Regions from separate parts of the Homo sapiens genome. Here region 1 is linked to region 2. Evidence: fine-mapped expression QTL. Tissue or cell type: whole blood. Region 2 holds a variant in brackets; the other region holds the start of a gene. All regions are shown on one strand. Distances are between the middles of the regions.

Evidence for each region. PIP is the estimated chance that this variant, and not a neighbour inherited with it, causes the effect.
Region 1: it holds the start of LIPN, and the variant in region 2 is fine-mapped to the expression of LIPN in whole blood (INTERVAL, PIP above 0.99).

The regions. Positions count from the first base shown.
Region 1 is chr10:88,756,647-88,764,962 of GRCh38, reverse strand. It overlaps LIPN (lipase family member N), which reads right to left and starts at 4,943. Exons shown (of 10, transcript NM_001102469.2): 1 at 4,857-4,943; 2 at 3,450-3,565; 3 at 2,658-2,775; 4 at 355-553. The coding sequence starts at 3,557. RefSeq lists an enhancer at 4,589-5,788.
Region 2 is chr10:88,643,310-88,651,625 of GRCh38, reverse strand. No RefSeq gene overlaps it. Among named protein-coding and RNA genes, the nearest start is that of LIPF, 17 kb to the left of the region's middle. The variant G/A (reference allele first, on the strand shown) is at 4,001.

The DNA.
Region 1 (8,316 bases), 110 kb before region 2:
TTTGAATGTTCGGGGCCTAGAACAGCGCATACAGTAGCCACTCAGTAAACATTGGCTGAATGAATGTGCACATTGGTCATGATAATTTCCTGAGCTGTCTCTTTGGACATACTTTTAATGCATAGAATTCACAGAATTGGATGTAAAAATGATCTTGTTGAAATGCCATACTTTGCCTGTGGGAGAATCAGTGAAAAATCAGAGCTTCTTGCTGTTACCCTCCTTTGAGATCTTAACAGAAACTACAAGGAGCTATATGACTTCAAGCGTCAAAGATAATCATTAATAGCGTCCACGTTATTTTTTTTAAATTGCCTCCAATTTCCCCCTTGAGTTTTCTTAGCTAATATTTACCTAAAGGCCCAGAATTTCTCATCTGTCTCTGAGAGTGTTTTGTGTCTTCTTGACCAAGTGTTTCCCCGACTGTTTCCCATCCATACATCATAACCTGCATCTGCTAGAAGGAATCCAAGGCTTCCATTAGCATAATTCTCAAGCCAGTAGGCATTGTCTGCAAACAGGGCATGCTGCATATACACAACTGGCCGGGGACCTGGTGGGGGAAAGGGTAAGATGAGAGAGGGAGAAAGAGAAAGAGAGAGAGAGAAAGAGTGAGAGTAATTTATGTTAAATAGAGCATGTCGGAAACATCACAGACACACACACATACACACATGGTAAAACAAAAACTGTTTTCACTTTTCCCTTGTCAATAGTATAGAGCATTATAATCAGGTAACTTCAGTTTCTTGAGCACATATTTTTGTACCTGGTGCTATGTTGACGTATTTATATGTATTAGCTTACTAAATTCTTGCAACAACTCTATAAACTAGCTGCTATTTTGAGAAACCTCATTTTGTAGATATGGAAACAAAACTTTATGTAGTTAAGTAACTTTCCCAGAGGGCCACCCAGATAAGAAGGCCAGAGCAGGGACTCAAACCCAGTTCTTTTTATGTCAAAGTCTGTCCTGATAACTACTGTGCTCTATGTATTTGTATATACAAATTTCCTGGGTGTGGTTTACAAAGACACAAAATTTATCATGCTTACTCAAGTCCTATAGCTCTTCCAGGGAGGAAGAGGAGGTGAGTGTAAATGGACACTGATTAGTTCCTCACCAAATTTCTATTCAAATCCCCATCCTCTGTCCAGTGGAGAGCATTTAAAAACTACAATAATATGCTCAGCTCAGTGTCCCTCTGCCAACTTCCAGATTTCTGAGGGAGAGAGAGCATTCAGGGAGATCCAAAGAACCAGGGTGGAAGGTCAAGTAAGGCACTATAATTTAATGACTAAGAGCACAGGCTCTGGAGCCAGCATGCCTGGGCTTAAATTCTGGTCTGTCAGCTTGCTATTTGTGGACTTTAGGCCTCTTAACATAACCGGTTGTGCCTTAATTTCATCATTTGTGAAATGGTGACTATTAGTGGTACCCATCTCATATTGTTGATGAGAAGTTTAACTGATATAAAGTATTTAGAACATTACATCTAATGAATGATCTTTAATTCTAAATCTTTCCAAAATTATCTCTCCTTAAGCCAAATCTTTCCCATAAAAGTTTTCTCCTTTTATATTTCACAGCTCCTTCACACATGTGCCTGGGATTGCCAGATTTAGCAAAAAATAAAAACAAAAGTAAGCAAAAAGTTCCAGGATGCTCTACAAAATTTTATAAATAGTGATAATAGTGAATAAATAATGACTTTTTAGTATTATCTTAAAATGAGACTTATACAAAATTATTTGTTGTTTATCTGACCTTCAAATTTAACTGGGTGTTTCATATTTTAACTAGTAAAACTACTCATATCTCACTCTCATTTTTCATTCTGAAACTGGAGATAAAAGAGGGAGAGAATGTCAAACATGACCTCAGCTGCTCCTTAATATGTGTGGTGGGAAAAAAGATGCAAAATGAACACGGTAAGCAGCTGCCAATAAATTATTTGCTATTGAACCATTGCAGATATTTTGGTTATTCTTATCATTTCTACTTCAGAGGATTTGTAGTTAAATTTTCCCTTTTAAGGAGTATCATTCCCCTGCTATGGCATGGCTGGCTCCTCATTCTAGAATTCAAGCCTTATTGACACCATACTCTTTCATTCTATGAACCGTCTGTCCCTTAGATCAAAGTGTATGTGGATGTTAAGGTTTTCAGTCCTGGAAAACTTTTCAGAAATGCGTTGTCATTTAACTAGATTGTTTTTTATCCTGCAGAGGGAGGCCCCTTAATTTTAGTGGGAGCAGGAGAGGTTCTTCTTGGGTGCCCCAGAGTCAATTTCATACAACCTAGAAAATCTCCTTCTGACAATGAGAGGATCCATTTTCCTGGGACAAAGCAATTTTCCACATGATAAATCAGTAATGAGGTGACAAAATGCAGGCTCTGCCTTTCTGTTTACACCCTAACAAGTACCTCTGGTTGCAGTTAGCAAGATCAGTCTTGCTGTTTGTATTTTTAGGTTCCTGTCTGTCTTCAGAGAATTATCAGGCAAAGAGTGAGCCTCCCTGATAACTATTTAAAGACTAATCCAATAATTCAAACCAATTTTGATAAACTCTGTTGATGCATATCTAGCATTAAATTCCTCCTGAGAAGCAGGAGGTCAATGCAGTCCCCTTTTCAGGAGAGACATATCTTGTACCTGTGCTCCTAGCATGTGTTCGCCCATAAGGAATTCTGTTGACAAGGAGTATATACCCATCTTCAGTGGTGACTTCATACTCTTCACTGGGGTAGCCATTGTAGATGATGATTTCACTCTGCCCAGTAAAAATACAGTCGTTAGTGGAACTTCTCCAAAGGATATAAAAAGGAATCAAAACAAACCATCTGTTGTGTGCTTATTAGGGTGAATTATCTGAAATTTGTAGCACCAGGTAACTGTAAAATTAATAAATAAAGTCTTAATACAAAATAAGTAGAATTTTAAAAAATATCTACTATTGGCTAATATTTTGGGGGGTTGGGGGAAAATTTAGCATTGACCCATTCTTTCTGACAAAGCTATATTATCAAGTCAATTGTCTTTTGAGACCCCTCTTGCTTTAAAAGTAATAGAACTATAGATCAATAGAAGGCAATCATGTACATCAACAAATAGCTTGATATTCTTAAAACATAAATTCAAAAGAGGAGGTTCTATCTATAGATAGATAGATAGATAGATAAATAGATAGATAGATACATAGATAGATAGATAGATAGATAGATAGATAGATAGATAGATAGCACAATAGCACAATTTGGTTTTCATTACCGGACAGTATTTGTTTTTCAGACAAAGATCTAACTAGCTTGACTCTTGCAGAGGTTAAAAACCATCTACATTTTATCTGTTTTATCAGAGATTTTCTGTTACAACAGGACCTTTCGTAACCTCATACTCCATTAGTCCTGCTTTATTTGATGTTCTTCACAGTTTTCCATGACTTACAGTATTCATCCACACCTCAGGATTCACTTCATTTTCCAAATCAAGGAATCCACCAGCATTTAAAGTTCCACAGATCAAACAAGTTGTTGTTAAAAGCAGCCACATCATAGAAATGCCTGGCATAAAACATTTAATATTCACAGATTAATTTTAACTATCAATGTTGATTAATGAAATAAAATGATTAGTGAAATTATTAATGATTAATGAAAACTTGAATAACACCGAAGGCAGATAATGTATAAAAAGGAATAAATACAGTGAACTAACTTGGAGCACTATTAATCTATTTTTTCATGTAGAAGTTGTCTTGATTATAATCCAGTTCCTAAAATGAAATAAATTTAATCAAGTATGGAGGCATTTTTGGTCTTATTTTAATCAAGGTTGAATTGCTTTAAGTCTTTGTTTGCCTACAATTTGACAAAATATCTAAAGATTCAGAGGACAGGTTTTCATACCATGGCCAAGTAAAAAGTGGAGGTATCCCCTAGTTAAGCCCAGTATCCCACAAAGTAAACAAGAAAAATGGATCAATAAAACTTTAACCAAACACAAAAGCTTATGATTAGTTTCTAGTGATGTGATTATTTCTCACGTGGCACCCAAAGGCAAATTTTGCGTATTTCAATGTGCAGTCTCACTTCCTTGCCATGGTTTAAAAGTATGTCTATTCAAAGGTAGACCAACACTATAACACTAAACAGCGTGCTCATCATATAAGTGCTACAGTCAAATGGTCTAAATTTGAAATCCAGCCTCACCACAGAAGAAGATGTCTAACCTCAGGCAAGTGTTTTAGTAGCTTTGTCTCTTGGTTTCCTTGTTAGTAAAATTAGGACAATAATGTAACCTATCTCATAGGGTTATAGTGAGGATTAAGTCATATATAACATTTAGTGCAGTGTAAGTTCTTAATAAATGCTTTCACTATTTTTCTTATAAAAGTGAGCAAGAGATAAATATTACAGATAATTCACTATAACAAAGTAATATTTAACTTCTAGAAATGCAGAGTTTACTTCTGAAGCTAAATAGCTTTGCATACATTAGCTATCTGGTTGAAGATCATCTTATATCTGCAAATATTATGAAACTTTTCAAATTGTATGAAACTAATAATAAGCTACTGAGTCCCCTTATGGCAGGCATTACTCTAAATAGTTCACGTATGTTATTTAAGCTCTGAAAATCTCCCTAATTTTGGTACTATTATTATCCTCATTTTATCAATTAAAAAAACAAAGGCTTAGAGAGATTTAAGACCTGCTCAAGGTCACAGAGCCAAGAGGTGAGAGATCTAGGATGGACACTCAGGCAGCCTCACTGCAGAGCTCTTGCACCTGACTGCCAGTGCAACTGGCACCTTCCAACCTGCCTCCTGGTTATGATAGATCTTCATCTTACCTAGTTAGATGAGCTTCACCTGCTCACAAGGACTCCTTATTGATGAGGAACTTCTGAACTTTTGCTTTTGACATCAGGCTGAAGAGTAAGAGATGATTACAGTGACAGTTAGAAGCTAGAGAGATGAGAAACAGGAAGCTTGTGAAAAGGAGGAAGCTTTAGACTGAGACACACACCCAAGGCGTGTCCCTGACACACCAAAGGCCATGATGCACTTGCAGGTTGGGAAATAGTGGTCTACATGATGCAAAATAACCAGTTTGACGGAATCCTTCATGTTTCCACTGAGTATCTGTCATTGTTGGGAAGACTTAGCAACATTTTCAAACCAGTGTGTCAAACAGGGAAGTAGAACATACTCAAGATCTTAATGGACAATCAGAGACAATAGTATCTCCCTTCCCCATTTGATCCTTCATGAGGATCAAACGGAGTAACATATATCAAGGAACTAGTGCCAACCATGCAGTGCGTAGGGATGTGCGTGACTGTAACTCATTTGAGAAGATGAGGCAACCCTGACTCCTAAATCCTGAAACCAGAAGGAATTTGGAACTAGCAGTATGGCAGAGGAAACTAATTCACATGCCAAAGGGATTTGGGTTGCTGTCAACTTTGGCACAGTAACCTTTGTTTACACCAGTGGTTAAAGGCAGAAATGGAGGCCAAATAACGACAATTTACCTCTAAGCCCCACATGAGATACCAGATAATGGAGGCACACGTGCCTCAGTTTTCTGCTTCACTTTGTATGCCTGTGGAGCTTAAGCCGTAACTGAATCTCTTTCATCTCCCAGCATGAAGAAGGGTAGGGAAAACTAAGTTGCTACCCAGCATAATATAGAAGTTTCAGTTCTATTAGTTTGGATTTATCCTCAAATCCTTTCAAAAAAAATGATATTTTGTGTTGTCCAAATCCTAAGATCTGTTTTAGTGGAGTGGGAAATTTCATGCCAATTAAACAAATGTGGAGTAAAAGGAAGTGTTCAGCTAGTCAGAACAGGGAAAAGTTATGTACCACTCCTTAATCATTTAGTCTTGATGAAAGACTCAAGCATGTTTTGCCCTGATTGATAGTATGATGGCATAGGTATGTGGATTTTCCTGGAATTTCTCATGGTTTTTAACTTCAAAAACAATCCTTTCTAACAAAACTTTATTGGACTCTTTAGAAAGTTCTAGAAGTGCTATGTTATTATTATTAATATTGATTTGTTGCCTTGACTTAATATGGAAATAGCACAAATATAGTTCAATTTCACAGATCTTTACAGATTGTAGGCTAGCTCAAATCTTAAAAGAGTTTCTACATCATTGACTTATATTCCCTCCTCAACTTCGAGTTATTTGAATAATCTGGACAATTCCTGTAATTCTTTTGTTTGTGCAGAAACAAAGTAATGTCAAAGAAATAAAGCTGAAACTTTCTCACAATGCTCCATCACTCTTCCTATATAAGCTTGCTATTTTAATAAGTATTTAATATATTACTGAGTATTATATATTTTTCTGTATTATATATTGTTCTACAATATTTAATAATATATTCTGTAATATATATTTTCTATATAATAAAAGTATATAGAAAATATATAATGTTACAATATTTCTATTATATATTTCAATACTCATACTGAAATTAATTTAAATGAATACATTAAAACTTGTTCCTTGGCCCTGTGGGATACAAAATGGTAGCCCCTACTCTCTAGAAGCTCAAATTTTTCCTTTTTTTTTTTTTTAATAAAATTAGATGATAGTGGAGCTAGAAAGGGGTAACCTTTCAGAAGGCCTGTGGTATTTTTGAAATCTCAGTCCAAGAATCATATTACGGCCTAAGCTAACTGCTTAATGATGGTTACTCATTCAATTGTGAAGATGGTGGAACACACATGGTTGAACATAGATCCTTGACTTTGGGATCTACCTGTAAAAATGATTATTATTTTTCTTCCAATGTCCTATTCAAAACACATTTCCTATTACAGTGTGGTTATCTTTTTGTTTGTTGGATTGCTTCTTTCTCCTCAAAGGCTGCTTTTTCAAATTTTCTCTTGAAAATAACTCAAAGTTAAAAAGGTTAGGCCATAACCAGCAAAATGGAAACTAGTGAGAATTTTGAAAAATAAATAATTTGAACCTCACACTTTTGAGACAAATTTCACCCTACAGTAAAAAGACTGTGCATGAACAAGAACCTGGATTTTGTCTCTTGCTCACTAGATAATTTATCTAATTTATTTTGCATCCTAAAATTCAAACAGTGCTCAATAGAACCATAAGTGTCCATAAGTCTATATGTGTGTGTGTAAAATTATTAATTAGCACACTTTTGCTTAAGAGAAAATACTTTATATTTTAAAATTTCATCTCTTTACTCAAAGCGAAGTTGGGAATGTTCATAATTACTACAAGAAACAGTGTTGTTTTTGAGATTACATATTAGCGTAGAACATGCTTTCTTTTAGTGTTAGTGAAAATGAATCTCTGTTTCAGTGACATCTATACTACATCCATCTTTAAAAACAATAATGGCTATAATAGAAGAGAGAAGTGACAAAAAGATCTATCAATCATAGTTAACTAAAATATTAAAGATTTTTGAAGAGGCCATAATAAGTTTATTGAACACACATCCATCTCAACTCAAAATGTTCAAAGGAAAGATCACTTACATTTAAAGAGAAATTATTACCAAGAGTGCCGGCAGCTGTCCTTGATAACGTCCATGTTCCGGAGTGACACGATCAGGACCATCCGTGTTTGTGACAAAGGTCAAATCCTTGTGAGAATGAAGAGGAAGGGCCATACCATTGAATATGAGGAAAATTATATCATTTTCCTGCCCCAGGCGGATCTACCTTCCTCGCTTCCTGCTTAATGTGCAGCATGTATGTGTGGTATTCTCTAGAGCTCATTTTGTATTTGAATTTCTGTAGGAGGTATATTCAAATGTAGATTCTTTAAAAAAAAAAAGACACAGGACACTTAGCTAGACATTCAAGTTGGATCTAGTTTTAATTTGTCTCATCTAATTTGCAAGAGTAAATAAATGGTGATTGGAATGTGCAAAGAGGTAACATTGTTGTTTTGATATATGCTCCTGTTTTTTTTTCCTGAGTTAATGTTCTATTTTGAGTTACTATTAAATCACCTTCAAATCTCACCAGCACCCCTGAAAATAGATAAATTGTTTTTAGAGTTTCTTAATTTCATTCCTCCTCTAATCACCATCATCATCAAAAATTTTTGCGGACTGAGTGAATGAGTGATTGAATAGATGATTCTGGAAGTCCAGAGAATGCAGCTTAGTTACTGAAGAATACTAATAATGTTATTATAAATAATAATAGTGAATTATTTATTATTTATTAAGTACATAGTATGTGTCAGGTATTTTACTTTGATATGCTACCAACTTGGCTGTAAATTCCACTGGCTTTCTTTGCTGTTACAAAGG
Region 2 (8,316 bases):
GCTTTACAGAATTCTTATTTCAGAGTTTGTGGTTTTTTTAGATTCATATTTTCATGTGAAAAATCCCCCAAATCCAGCCATGTAATTTTGCTTCCTGCCTTCCATCTGCATTTTTGTACTCTGGCTCCAGAAAGCCAAACAGCCTCTGATGTCAGGGATGAGTAAGAAATAGTGAAGGAGTCCAAGAAAAAGTCATGATTAATCCAAAAACTATTTTACATAAATTAGAACATAATGTGTGGAATGAGTCAAAGCTCAGATTATATTCTGTTTTTCTCTTGAAAAATGAAGGCTATCTCATTTGGACTTTTTATCCTAAATCACTTATCTTGAAAGTATTTCCCAACAAGGGACTCAAGGTTCATGAGGTCCTTCATTACCTACTAGTTGGTTTCTTGGTCTCTTGAATTTCCAATGTGTAACCTATCTTTAGTTGTGAGTCATGAAGCTATTTGGCAAATGCTGCAGTCAATGCAAACTTTTCTAATGCAATGAGATTTTTAAAAAAGTTTAGTGTAAGATAAAATGGCAGTTAACTTGTGGTTTGAAGATATGCTCCAAGAAAATATGTTTATCAGAAAGTCAATTGAGGATTCACTTTTCTAATTCAGTAATTCTCACTTTTTGTTTTCAAGACCCTTTACACTCTTAAAATTATTAGGACTTTCAAAAGCTTTTTTAAAAAATGTGGGTTATATGTATATAAAATTAGTGAGACAAGTGCTTTATAGTTTTGCAAATCTCTTTCACGTCTGGCTCCACAAAGCAGTTGGATTTTTATATTTGTGTCTGCATTCAATCTACTGCAATAACAGCAATAAAAGACAAATAATGCATTCATATGATTATGAAAGTACTTTAAGTTATACTTTATTAAAATATTCATAATCAATTAAAGAATTCATTATGTATATCATAGAATTAGTCCAACTTGTCCTATCACATCTACGTCACTTCATTTATACATTAATGTTTGTTGGGAATCCTAGATTTGATTCATATACAGCTACCCGGAGCGAGATATAAAAACTGATCATTTCTGGTGCTGTTTTATATGGTATTAGTTTGACATCACCCATAATCCTTTCTATATTCTCCTCTGTTTAGAAGGGGAGCATGTTTGAATTCTCTTTCCTATGATGTGTTTCTGCTTTTGTCTTAATGAAAGGGTTTTCATTCATTGGGGCAGTTGTGAGCAGGTGCACAGGCTGATAACAGAAACTTATGGTGGCTTCTGGGTGAACTCCTGGGAATCACCCACACAGTGCTGCAGGCACCTGAAATCTGCCATCATGGCTCCCCTTTTATTCCTGAGCTTCACTTGCAGCAACTCCCAGGAAAGTTCCTGTAAATCACTCATTTCTAGCCGTGACTTTTTTTTGATCTTCATTGCTTGAGAAGTTCCATCAGTTCTGTAAGCATCTAATTCCACATATAAGAACACTTTCTGCTTGGAATACTTAGAGTGGCTTCTTTATTCTGACCAGACTTTGATATATACAGCTCAATTATTCTGGGAAAATCATTCGAGTAGTATAAAATTGGTATTTTTTAAATTTTCTTCATATTGAAAATATGTGATTAAGACAATAATATATATAATAGTTATTATGCAACTATTTTCTTTTTAGAATACGTTTATGTTATAAAGAGATAAAATAGTAATTTAAGAAAAAGTTATGGCTATTTGGAAATAAAGAATCACAGGTGCTAAGCCATTAAAAAGAAAGGAGCTCTGTAACAAAAAACTTTGCTAAAGGTGTTTCATAGTTAATAGAAGGGTGGGGACTAGAAATCCAAGTAAGCCCCATAGCAACACTCTCTCCACAATTCCCAGATGCAGAAAGCCCTCTTCTTTAAAGAGAAAATAAATAATTAAATAACTTCATGTGTGTGTAATATATTTTATATACATAATACATGTATGTATATATAATATATATTTACCGTATATGTATTACATGTACGTATAATACATATCTACTATTTATATATTTAATATATGTACATATAATACATATTTCCTACATATATGTATTACATGTATATTCAGGTCCAACGCTGTAACATCCTGTCATCATCCTGTTGGTTTTCTCACTCTTCTCATCCTTTCTTTGTCCAGCCCATTTAATTTGTACAGATATGACTTCCAATATCTCTAACCCAATCTTTCTCCTAAACTTCAATACCATATATCCAACTGTCATTTTGGGATCTAATCTTGGTTCTGTTATTTACTATTTGTAGGATCCATGGCAAGTTATTTAATCACTATAAATTCACTTCTTCACTCTAAAATAAGATTGTTAATACCTACTGCAAAGTATTAAGAATTCAGTGAGACAGTGTATGTAAAGCACCTGGCATACAATAAGCATACAATTAATGGTAACTATTATGACCACTATTAAGATTTTCCCTCCCTCCCCCCTCCCTCCCTACCACCCTCCCTTCTTTCTTTCTTCCTTTCCTTCCTTTTCTTCCTTTTCTTCCCTCCCTTTCTTTCTTTTCCTTTCTTCAGGATCTCACTCTGTCACTCAGACTGGAATGCAGTGTTGTAATCAGTGCTCACTGAAGCCTCGACCTCCCTGGGCTCAGATCAACCTCCCACCTCAGTCCTAGCTATTAAGTTTTTCTTACTGCATGAAGATATGTAACATTAACCTTCTTCCTACTGGATTATTATTATCATTATTATTATTATTTTGAGATGAAGTCTCACTCTGTCACCCAGTCTGGAGTGTAGTGGCATGATCTTGGCTCACTGCAACCTCCACTTCCCAGGTTCAAGTGATTCTTGCACCTCGGCCTCCCAAGTAGCTGGAATTACAGCACCTGCCACCACGCCTGGCTAGTTTTTGTATTTTTTAGTAGAGACGAGGTTTCACCACATTGGCCAGGCTGGACTCCAACTCTGGGCCTCAAGTGATCTGCCCCCCTTCGCCTCCCAAAGGGCTGGGATTACAGGTGTGAGCCACCACACCTGGCTCCTGCTAGATTAAACAACTTTCAGATTGATGCTTTGATCGAGTGATCACTTTATTCTTCTAAAATTTATGTCAGTACTATTTTTGTTTAAATAAATATATTCCTAATTTACATCCTATACAGCATACTCTATGCTCCAATTTCTCTCATTTTGACTTCAGCATTACATATTTTAATCACTGATTTCTCCCTGGGATTTATATAGGTGATTAGAGTTGGGGAGAGCTGGTAGGTGGTGATTAACTATATGGATCTAGTATTTTCTTTTCATTTCTGATACCCATAAAGGATACCACAAAACTTCAGCTTTAGAGTAATTTTGAATTTTGTTAAAATTAATTTTATTGAGGTCTAACTTATATACAAGAAAATTCACACCATTTAAGTAAACACTTAAATGAGTTTGATGACCTCCTTATCCATGTAACCACCAGCCAGTAAAGTTCTAGAACATTGCTATCTACCCAGTTCCCTTAAGCTCCTCCATTGTAGTCAATCATTCTCTATCCCCTTCCCCAAGGAAACAGTAACCTGATTTCTATTGATATAGATTGTTTTCCTATAATCAATGTAAATCATACAGTATGTACTCTTTTTCATTCAGCATTGCAGCTGTGAGATTCATCTATGTTGTTGCATGTGCCAATAGTTTGTTTTTTGATACTGCTGAGTAGTATTTACTGTCTGAATATACCACAATTTATCTATTTACCTCTGATACTTTGTTTACAGTTTTTTTGCTATTAGAGTTAAGGCTGCTATAAACATTTGTGTACAAGTCTTTGGAATGATATACCCTTTCATTTTTTTGAGTAAATATGTAGGAGTGAAATTTCTGGGTCATATAGTAAGTGTATGTTTAACTTTTGAAGAAACTGTTAAACTGTTTTTCTAAAGGAATCACACAATTTTACATTTTTAGTCACTTGCATTCTTAAAAGTTGTGTATGTCTGAGATGAAAACATATTTTAACTTCTTCAGAATCCCCTCTTTCTTCTTCTTGTTTCCCTC[G/A]GTACCTGACAACTCAATGGCAATGTCTAAAGAAATGCAGAAAGTTTGGAAATAGCAAGTTTTTAGACTTGGGAATGGTGGTGTGAAAGGAGTGAAGGAGATTCTTTAACCTCAATCTTAATTCAACTTTATATGACTAATCAGAATTTTCCAGCAGCCCCAGTTCTAATGATCTTTTTCCTCTTGGACATCTCAACAGGAAGTTTCATAGCAAGTGTGAGACCTTAACACTTCAAGTTTATGAATAGGAGAGGGTACATGGTACTGAAAGAATCTAAGTCTGGTTGATTACTTCCTTTATTTTCACTTTATGGGCACAGTGCAGAAGTAGAGACTAATGAGTACTTTCCCTCCCACGGAACATAGAGAACTATTGGGGAAAGCCTTCTCCTGCCCACCTCATGACCTGGGAGTTCTTGGCTAGATGCCCTCAGCATCTTCCCCCTTTCAGCTGATCCCAAGCCTTCCCCGGACATTTTCCCTCATCTTCATGGCATATGCAATGCTTGACAGATTTCCTTGTTTGTAGTTTGTGTGCTTGCATACATGTGTGCATTATTCTAGAGGGACTGGCAGGACTCAGAAAAGGCAGGAGCATGGAGACAATTAAGTGCCAAGTTCAAGAAGAGCTCACTCAGTTTTTCCTGGATTTAATGATAACTTTTATGGTTTTTGGTTTTGAGCCTTTTTTGTTCTTTTCTCTCTTTCTTTCTCTCTTTCTTTCTTTTTTTAATTTTCTCATTTGTATAGAGATTCACTAAGCATTTAAGGTGCTCCAGCTTCCAGGCTCACATCGCTGGGACTAATTAAATCATAGTCCCTACTTTTGTGGCACTCAGAATCAGGTGAGAGAGAGAGATATAGAAAAAAAGTTGCAACTGATTTTGTGTTTATTCAGTGTGATTAAGAAAAAAGAACAATTATAAATGGAGTGGCTTGTTTTCTGTGATCTCCCAAACTAGGCTGTGAGTACTTCAAAGGAAAGCAATGCATTAACTTCTTTTTCCATTCTTTTTGCAAGACCTAGAATTAAATATTAAGAGTAGAAGAGAATCATCTGGTTTGCCTCAGGTCCTCAAGTATTATAGGCTAGGAAACTAAGGCTCTAGGAGATTGACAGAGTTGTGAAAATGTCACAAATCTTGTTACTGATAGATTCAGGGGTGACTACCAAGTCACTTCTCTCTTCATTATACCAATGCCTTCTTTCAAATGATGCAAAATAATTTAATATTTTTATGTATTATTTTTCACACATAGGTCATCGTTTGTAAATACTTGATTTAAACTTGATAAATGGTTTTACTTGGAAAGCAATTACTATAGTTCTGAATCATTGTTCTAATGCCCAAAGTGTATAGTTTTTCAGTATTCATATTTAAATTTAGTGTTTACATTTTGTTATTTTTCTATGCTCCTTAAAAATGATATCCTCCCTTTATCAGCCCTAATTTAGTACAGTGACTTTGGTGAATTATCTGGGACTACATTTATAACTGAAGTTTTGCTGCAAGTAAACAGTTCAACTTCAATAAGTAGAAATGTTTTGAAGCAAAGATGACATGACTGAGAAGGAGGGTTTTTCTTGTGAGGAATGGACAATGGCAAGAAGGAAAATGAGCTCTATCATCTGAGCCTACTGCAGCCACTAAATGACCTGAGTTGTTAAATCCAAGGCTCCATAAACGATTCTTACAGAGATGAATTTATTGCCAACTTGTCAATTTGTTACCTGTTCTACATCAAAATATTACACAAATGTCACAAAGAGAAGAGGGAAAGCGTCTATTCCTCGACTGAATCTCTGAGTCTGATCCCCCAAATCTTCTTTTCTTGCATGTCTTCCCTTCTGCTGCAGTTCTTATGACACCATAAAAGAAGCAGAGTTGATCTTCTGAGTTTCTTTCTCTTGTTCACCTTTTCTTATCCCCTAATTCCAGTGTTCACAGTGACCTTTGGAGAATCTGCCCCATCCTCTCCCTTTCTGTAGCATCTCTCTCACTCTCCCATAGAACAAATGCTATCTCCCTTTACATTCTCTGTGTTTTCATATACTTTGGGCCTTTGGCAATTTCTGCTTTTGGTTTGCAGCCTATTGGGTATTAATGGCTATTTTGGTTTAATCACATGAACGCATTTTATCTGATATGTACACTGGTTTTTGCCTTACTGCTGCAGATTAAAAAAAAAAAAAAAGAAAAAGAAAACCTCCAAAGAGGTGACAGCAAAAATGAAGAATTCAGGAAAAAAGATACAGGAAATAAATTTGAAGCGTATTTCTGAGATCCATGACATCACAATATGTAGGTAGTAACATTCCTAACTCTTAGTGAATTAAAGGTGCTATTGTGTCACTGGCTGCTTCTTTCCATTCAGTTCCTCCACCTTAGTTCAAAACCTCATTATTTTGCCTTCATTATGGCATCAAACTCCAAACTCAATGTTTCTCTTAGAGTGTTCTGTGGGTCACATGTCTCTGAATCACCTAAAGTGCTAATTAAAATTGTAGATACCTGCAGTCAGCTCCAGGCCTGCTGAATCAAAATTTCCTGGGCTAGGGCCTGGGATTTATGTAAATAAGCACTCCAAGTGACACCAGTTTTATCACTGATTGATTGATTCATCAGGAATCTACTGTTTTCTAGACATTATATTAGGTAAATCATGCCAAAGTAGATCTGTTTCCTGTCCTTACAGAGTTTACAGTGTAGTGGCTTATGACAGACATTAAACAAGTTGGCACACAGATACTTACATAAGGGCAATGTGGTGAATACAGGAACAAAAAGACTAAAGTGTAGAAGGTAGGAAAAGGTGAAACTGCTTTCATAGTCAGAGAATGATTTGAGAAAGTAGTATTTAAATGTGAGAACTGAAGGATGAGAAGGTGCTAGCTGGGTGGGGAGTGTGGGGAAATTATTTCAGGGAACAGATCTTAAAACTCTCAGCTTGGAAGATGCTTGTTTGAGGAGCTGAAAGTAGGCCAAATTACTGAAGAATTGAGAATGAGGACGAGAGTTGTGTGAGATAAGTGGAATGATGATAAACAATTTAGCCTGTTAGGAGATTGCCCTGGCAACTATGAGAAAGATGTGTTAGAGGGGTTCACATAAACACAGGTCAAAGGCAGAGACTCAGGTCAACAGCAGAGAACTAACAGTCGCTTGGACTAGAGTGATGGCCTGGGTGCAGACAGATTTGAGATAAATTTAAGAGCTAGAATGAGCTAGACTTGGAGTTTTTAGACATGAGCAGATTTCTCACCTGGCCCAATGAAGTTATTATTTTGCCATTTAATGAGCTGGTAAAGACTAGGAAACTGAAAAGTTATTAAAGGGAAATCCAGAGGTGAGATTTGGACACATTAAGTTTGAAATGATCACCTCTTCACCACCACTCTATTACCCACCCTGGTATTACTTTCCTCCTTCATTCCCTCTATTCCTTCAGTTTCACATTTCTTACTCCTGTCTCTGACATCTAGGTGTGTCCCTGGGAGATCTCTAGTTTGAGAATTATGACTCTACATTGAACTACTAATAGATTCTAAAAAGCACTATGTTCTTGTTCACCTCTTCAGTTTGGTACTTCTGCATCCTTGTCCTAAAATGATTTCAATGCCGTTTTCCATGTGGGCAACCTCTAGTCAATTTCAAATATTTCTGCTATGGATTCTACTACGTTCTCCCCAAACAAATGTCATTCCTCCTTTGTGCCATCATTTTTCTTTGGCCCTAATTTTTGAATAACTTCTATCATATTGTTTTGACATGTTTGGTTCACATGTCTATTTTTCAATAACGCTATATAACTTGATATAGGAAGCATGCCTTATTAGGTATTTAATAGAGACCAGGGTCTCACTGTCTTGCCCAGGGTGGTCTCAAACTCCTGGACTCAAGGTATCCTCCTGCCTCAGCCTCCAAATGCGCCGGGATTACAGGCATGAGCCACTGCACCTGCCTTCTGCAATCTTCTTATGAAACAAACAACCTTCCAACTCTGAAAGCAGTAATATGAAGGCAGAAAATGAACTAAAATTTGTAAGGAGACTGAGAAGAGTGTTTACATTGCATAGCAATCCCAAAGTTTTAAAACTCCTCTTTTAGGTATATCGCTTTTTCTATAAACTTTCTACTACCTCTAATAGTAGCCACATAGTCCTTTCTTCTTATTTTTCTTCCTTCTCAGAAGCAATTGGCTTTAATTTTCCTCCTTGCAGTCCCTCTCTGAATTTCTATATTCATGGTATTTTAGTCAACAAGACAAAAGTTTGACAAAAAATATGAAGCAAAATAAAAATTCTGACTTCAGCC